2 separate regions of the Homo sapiens genome follow, and region 2 is linked to region 1. Evidence: fine-mapped expression QTL. A gene starts in region 1. The other region holds a variant in brackets. All regions are shown on one strand. Distances are from middle to middle. Region 1 holds the start of PHC1 (polyhomeotic homolog 1). Region 2 has its middle 22 kb from the start of PHC1.

Region 1 (2,909 bases):
CACTTAACAGTGATAATTCTCCCAGGGAAACTAAGGAAGCACATGAGTCATGTTTCTTAACTTTAATGTTGTATAATCTGAAAATTATCTATAGATGCTTTTTTTTTCCATTGGTGCTAGAAAATTCCGCCTAGGCTCAATCGATATCCATTTCTAAACTTCTGCAAGAAAGCTTTAACTGCTTTGACATGCCAAAAATCCAGGTGTGAATTAAACAACGAATGCTTTACCTCGTTTTCACCACTAGTTCTACCAGTCAGAATCTTTTCAAATCATCCTCAGCCAGTGCCTGTCATCCACGGCCTGGTAACACACCCTTTCACCTCCTCATACCCCGTGTCTTCGCTTTTCCAGTCCTTTGGCTGCCCTCCGGTTTCTTCCCTCACATACCTGTCTGACTAGTTCCTAGAAGCCTGGCAGAAATTGTTCTCCGATTTTAATCTGGCTGCCACAAATGAAAGACCTTGGAGTCCAAATACTCCTCTCTCAAAGCAAAATCTAAATGGATATAATTTATAAGCAAAGATAACACTTCTGTTTTTTTCTCTATAAACAAACCATGCATGGGCTTTTAAAGGAGAAAAGGAAGAGTGGATTGACAGAGAAAATAACTGTTTAGGATAGAGGTTAGGAAAAGACTGAGAGCAAGAGAAAAGGCATCAATCCCAGTTGTTAATCCACGAGGCATCCCCCAGACCCTTCTGTAAAGGTTAATGAAGGCAGTAAGGCAGTTATCTTTGTTTCGTGCACTGATGCAATCCAAGCTTCCACGGTTTAGCACATAGTAGACGCTCTATAAATATTTATTGAATGTTGAACGATGAGAGAGTAATTAAAAACCGGTAAGTTGATATCATAAATACAACGACAACGGCTCCCCTATCAAATGTTTAGTGTTCCCAGAGACAGCCCCATTGTTCTACATCTCGTTATACTCTGGCCTTTTCCCGTTTTTGTCATTCGAACTCATATACATATTGAAATCGAAGCACACACAAATCCCTGAAATGACAAACTTAAATGCTATCCAAAGGAAGTTACATTAGGTTGCTGCTTTGAAAATGAAGTCAACTCCTAATGGGTTAGCTGTTTCTGCAGCATTCTTTCCCGCCTTCTTGGAGTTGAGGTGAGGGATTAAACAATCAACCTTCTCTCTCCTTTCTCTCATTCTCAAAGTTTTTCTCGCCTTTTCCTTCCTTTCCTTTGCTTCATTTCTTTTCCCAGTCTATCGTTTCTCTAGGGGTCGTTGCTTTGCTCTTTCTCCCTCTCTGTCTGTTGGTCCCTTTGATCCTTTCTTTCTACCCCTTATTCCCAGCAGCTCCAGAAAATACCTTCTTTCTCCCCGTCTCACGTCACTTCCCTCCCTTCTCCCATCTCCCTCTCCTCTCCGAGAGGTGCGTTCCCCACTAGAGGCCAGCACTTTCTTAGTTTCGTCCTTCCAACCGGCGAGCAGAACTCGGAGAGAAAGAAGGGGGTAAAAAAGAGGAGAAAGAGAGCAAGAGAGGAAAAAACCCCTGGGCCTGGAGCGCAGAGGCCCGGGAGCTGCGTCGCCATGGCAACGGGCGCCGGCAGGAAACGAGGGACGCGCGGGAGGGAGGGGGCGGAGGGCGCCGAGGGGAGGCGGAGGGACGGCGGGGGGGGGGTCCGGCTGCCCCGGAAGCACCTCCCCGCAGCCCCCTCCTCCAGCCCGGCCCGCAGCCCCTGGCCTGCGGCCCCCACCTTCTCGGCCGGGCAGGAAGTGACAGGCCCGGAGCGAGCCCCGGAGGCCTGGCTGAGCCGCGGCCGGGCCCGCACCCGGAGCGGCGGGAGGGGCGGGGAGCCGCGGTCGCGCCGGGCGCCTCCCACCCCGCCCTCGGCGCCCCCGCCCCTCCAGGAAGGGGAGGAGGCGAGGGGAGCCCGCCGCGGAGGCCGAGCGAGCCCCCAGCCCAGCCTGGCGACTGGGGACCCCGGCACATGAGGTGGACGCCCCCGGGGAAGACTTGGGTGCACAGCCAGGCGAGAAGGTAACCGGGCGACCGAGGGCCGGGGAGGGGCAGGACCTCTGGGGGCTTGGCTGCGCGGGGATGTATCCTCAGCCACCTCCATCTGTGTAACGCCCCAGGTACCTCCCCCAGTTGCTTTCCCTGCCTACCTCCGGCGCTGAGCTCTGCGGTCCTTCGGCTCTGCCTGTCCGAGTCTTCTGGCTATTCATTCTGCTGCGCTTCATGCTGTCTGTCCGTCACCCTAGCTGCCTCTGACTGCTCATTTTCTTATTCATTTTTCCTTCTCTGACTTTGGTCCTTCCAGCCGAGCATGCTGTCTAGTTATCTCCCTGCTTTCGTGGTCCGCTGGGTTCCTCAGCCTCCAGTTCCTTGACTTCTGCCTCTGCTCTCTGTATGCACATGTCCCAGCTCACTTGGGTCAGTTCATTCCCGGCGCACCACTGGATCCACCCCCTTCCCCCAGTGTATTTGATTTCTCTTTGAAACATCATTTTCATCAAGGTTCTATATAGAACGAGGACCCTTGGGCGTCTACTCCCTGTTCTCTTGATTATTACCGTGTCTTTGGCACAGTCTTCCCTGAACCACCCCCTTCTCCCGTCCCCCTTCCTATGTCCCATCCTTTCTGCATGATAAGAGTTTCGTGCTTAGGGATATTGACTTTCTCCAACTCTCGGCCCAATGCTAAGTCCACCTCAATGTCCCATTCTAACTCCCTTCGGTAGGTCTGTGCGCCTACCCAACCCCATGTATGCCCACATGCTACCTTTTAAGATGACCATGGCTTAGCTACTCTGGGGGCATCTGTGGATCAGCTTCTCACTGTCTTCCAGTTTAATTTGGAAAATTTTGATACCTGGTGCTGCCCAAACTGTTTGTTGTCTCCATTTTTTATATTTAATCTTGTAGTCATAATGTTGATCACAA
Region 2 (2,909 bases), 22 kb before region 1:
GATACAAAGGACTTTGGGGACTTGGGCGGAAAGGGTGGGAAGGGAGAGAGGAATAAAAAACTACAAATTGGGTTCAGTGTATACTGCTCGGGTGATGGGTGCACCAAAATCTCACAAATCACCACTAAAGAACTTACTCATGTAACCAAATACCACCTGTGCCCCAATAACCTATGGAAATAAAAAGTTTTTAAAAATTTCATTTTGTGAGTGCAGAGTAGGTATATGGGATACATGAGATGTTTTGATACAGGCGTGTGATGTGTAATAATCACATCCGGGTAAATGGGATATCTATGACCTCAAGCATTTATCCTTTGTGTTACAAACAATACAATTAGGCCAGGTACAGTGGCTCACGCCTGTAATCCCAGGACTTTTGGGAGGCTGAAGTGGGTAGATCACTTGAGGTCAGGAGTTGGAGACCAGCCTGGCCAACATGGCAAAACCCCATCTCTGCTGAACATACAAAAAGTAGGCGGGCGTGGTGGCGGGCGCCTGTAATTCCAGCTACTCAGGAGGCTGAGGCAGGAGAATTGCTTGAACCTGGGAGGCAGAGGTTGCAGTGAGCCAAGACTGAGCCACTGCACTCCAGCCTGGGTGACAGAGTGAGACTCTGTTTCAAGAAAAAATAATAATACAATTGTACTTTTAGTTATTTTAAAATGCACACTAAATTATTATTGATTAGAGTCACTCTGTTGTGCTATCAAATACTACATTTTATTCATTCTATTTTTTTGTACCCATTACCCATTCCCATTACAGCTTTTATTTTTGGGGCAAGGGCTTCCTGAAATACTAAAGTCTTGTTGGTAAAGACAGTAGAATAGCAAAGTCAAGCTAATGTAGGCAGTAAAGTGTGTGGGTGGGGCTTGGCTAATTCTCAGTTTCTGGTATATCTTTTCAGAGATATTCTGTGCTTATTCAACTATACATGTATAAATTTCTTTTATTATTATTTTTATCTTTTTATTTTTTTTTGAGACAGAGTCTTGCTCTGTCACCCAGGCTGGAGTGCAGTGGCACGATCTCGGCTCAGTGCAACCTCCGCCTCCCAGGTTCAAGTGATTCTTCTATCTCAGCCTCCCAAGTAGTTGGGATTATAGGCTCCCACCACCAAGCCCAGACAACTTTTTTGTATTTTTAGTAGAGACAGGGTTTCACCATGTTGGCCAGGCTGGTCTCACACTCCTGACCTCAAGTGATCCTCCCCTCTCG[G/T]CCTCCCAAAGTGCTGGGATTACAGGTGTGAGCCACCGTGCCCAGCCTATACATGTATAAATTTAAGAAATGTGATATTTTCCCCTTTACCAGTTGTTGCAGAAATCCAGAAACTGAGTATGAGATATTCCTTAAATAATGGCGATCCAACAGCGTTTGCTCTGTGGTGATATGTGATGTACTTTCCCAAAGTACGTATATTTACGTATTTTGTGTTGAATGGAATTACCGTTTGAGGTATTCTAGTGTTTTCCCTCTCAGCAATTTATCTAACAGATTATGGTTTTGGCAAAATCTGTGGGGCACATTTTCTTATTCCTGGTTTCCTCTTTTCCATCACAAAGCAGAGTACAGGGCTGAGTGGCAGGGGACAGAAATAATTATTCCATAAGCACTGAAATCTGAAGGCCAGCAGAGGGGCCTTCATTAAGTGCGAATCTGTTGGGCACCCACTGAGTAGTGAACAGGATGAATGTGACAACCACACTCCCTGCCCTTCCCAGGCTTGCAGCTTAGTGAGGGAGAGCAACACTGCCTGCCCTTCATTAGGGGGATGAATGTGACAAAGCACAGTCAGGTTGTGGGAACCTAACCTAATCTTTGGGCTGAATTAAGAATTCCCAGAAGTGACACTCAAGTTGCAAGATGAAGAATAAGCAGGAATGAGACAGGTGAGGGGTGCGGTGTGGGAGGATTGTTCTTGTAAGGGGAGATAGCCTATGCCTTCTCTGGAACCGAGATTACTTTTCTCCGTGTTTCTGGTTTCTGTGTTCCGCCATTTGTTCTGTACATCTTGTGGTCTGCTTTCCAGATTTTTTTTTTTTTTTTTTTTTTTGAGACGGAGTCTCACTCTGTCCCCCAGTCTGGGGTGCAGGGGCGCAATATCGGCTCACTGCAAGCTCCGCCTCCTGGGTTCACGCCATTCTCCTGCCTCAGCCTCCCAAGTAGCTGGGACTACAGTCACCCGCCACCACGCCCGGCTAATTTTTTGTATTTTTAGTAGAGATGGGGTTTCACCGTGGTCTCGATCTCCTGACCTCATGATCCGCCCGCCTCGGCCTCCCAAAGTGCTGGGATTACAAGCGTGAGCCACTGCGCCCAGCTTTCCAGATATTTTGAATAGGAATGTACACATAGACTTTCCAAGTGAGGAAGTCACCATCCTAAATGCATAAGAATCCATCCTATGACTAAAGTCCCTCATCAGCGAGAGCCTCTCATGTTAGTGGTCCTAGGGAGACAAGACCCTGTACCTTTTTTAGTTCTCAGGAGATGGAGTGAAGACTATTTTCTGCACTCTTGATAAAGTTCAAGAAATGCCCATCATTGGCAGAAAATAGAATTAGAATTTCTTAGAATTGGAAATGTCTTTAGAAATCATGCAATCAGGTCTCTTCAACTGAAAAATGAGGAAAATAAGACCCAAAGTGCAGAATTCCTTTCTAAAAATTTTAATTATTTTAAAATTATTATTACTTTATTTATTTATTTATTTATTGAGATGGAGTTTCACTCTTGTTGCCCAGGCTGGAGTACAATGGTGTGATCTCAGCTCATCAGCTCACTGCAACCTCCACCTCCCGGGTTCAGGAGATTCTCCTGCCTCAGCCTCCTGAGTAGCTGGGATTACAGGCGCACACCACCACGCCCAGCTAATTTTTTTGTATTTTTAGTAGAGACAGGGTTCC

What was found.
Region 2: its variant is fine-mapped to the expression of PHC1 in skeletal muscle (GTEx, PIP 0.98).

What each region holds. Positions count from the first base shown.
Region 1 is chr12:8,912,825-8,915,733 of GRCh38, forward strand. It overlaps PHC1 (polyhomeotic homolog 1), which reads left to right and starts at 1,685. Exons shown (of 15, transcript NM_004426.3): 1 at 1,685-2,003. RefSeq lists silencers at 1,567-1,676, 1,727-1,776, 1,847-2,136.
Region 2 is chr12:8,891,320-8,894,228 of GRCh38, forward strand. No RefSeq gene overlaps it. Among named protein-coding and RNA genes, the nearest start is that of PHC1, 22 kb to the right of the region's middle. The variant G/T (reference allele first, on the strand shown) is at 1,222.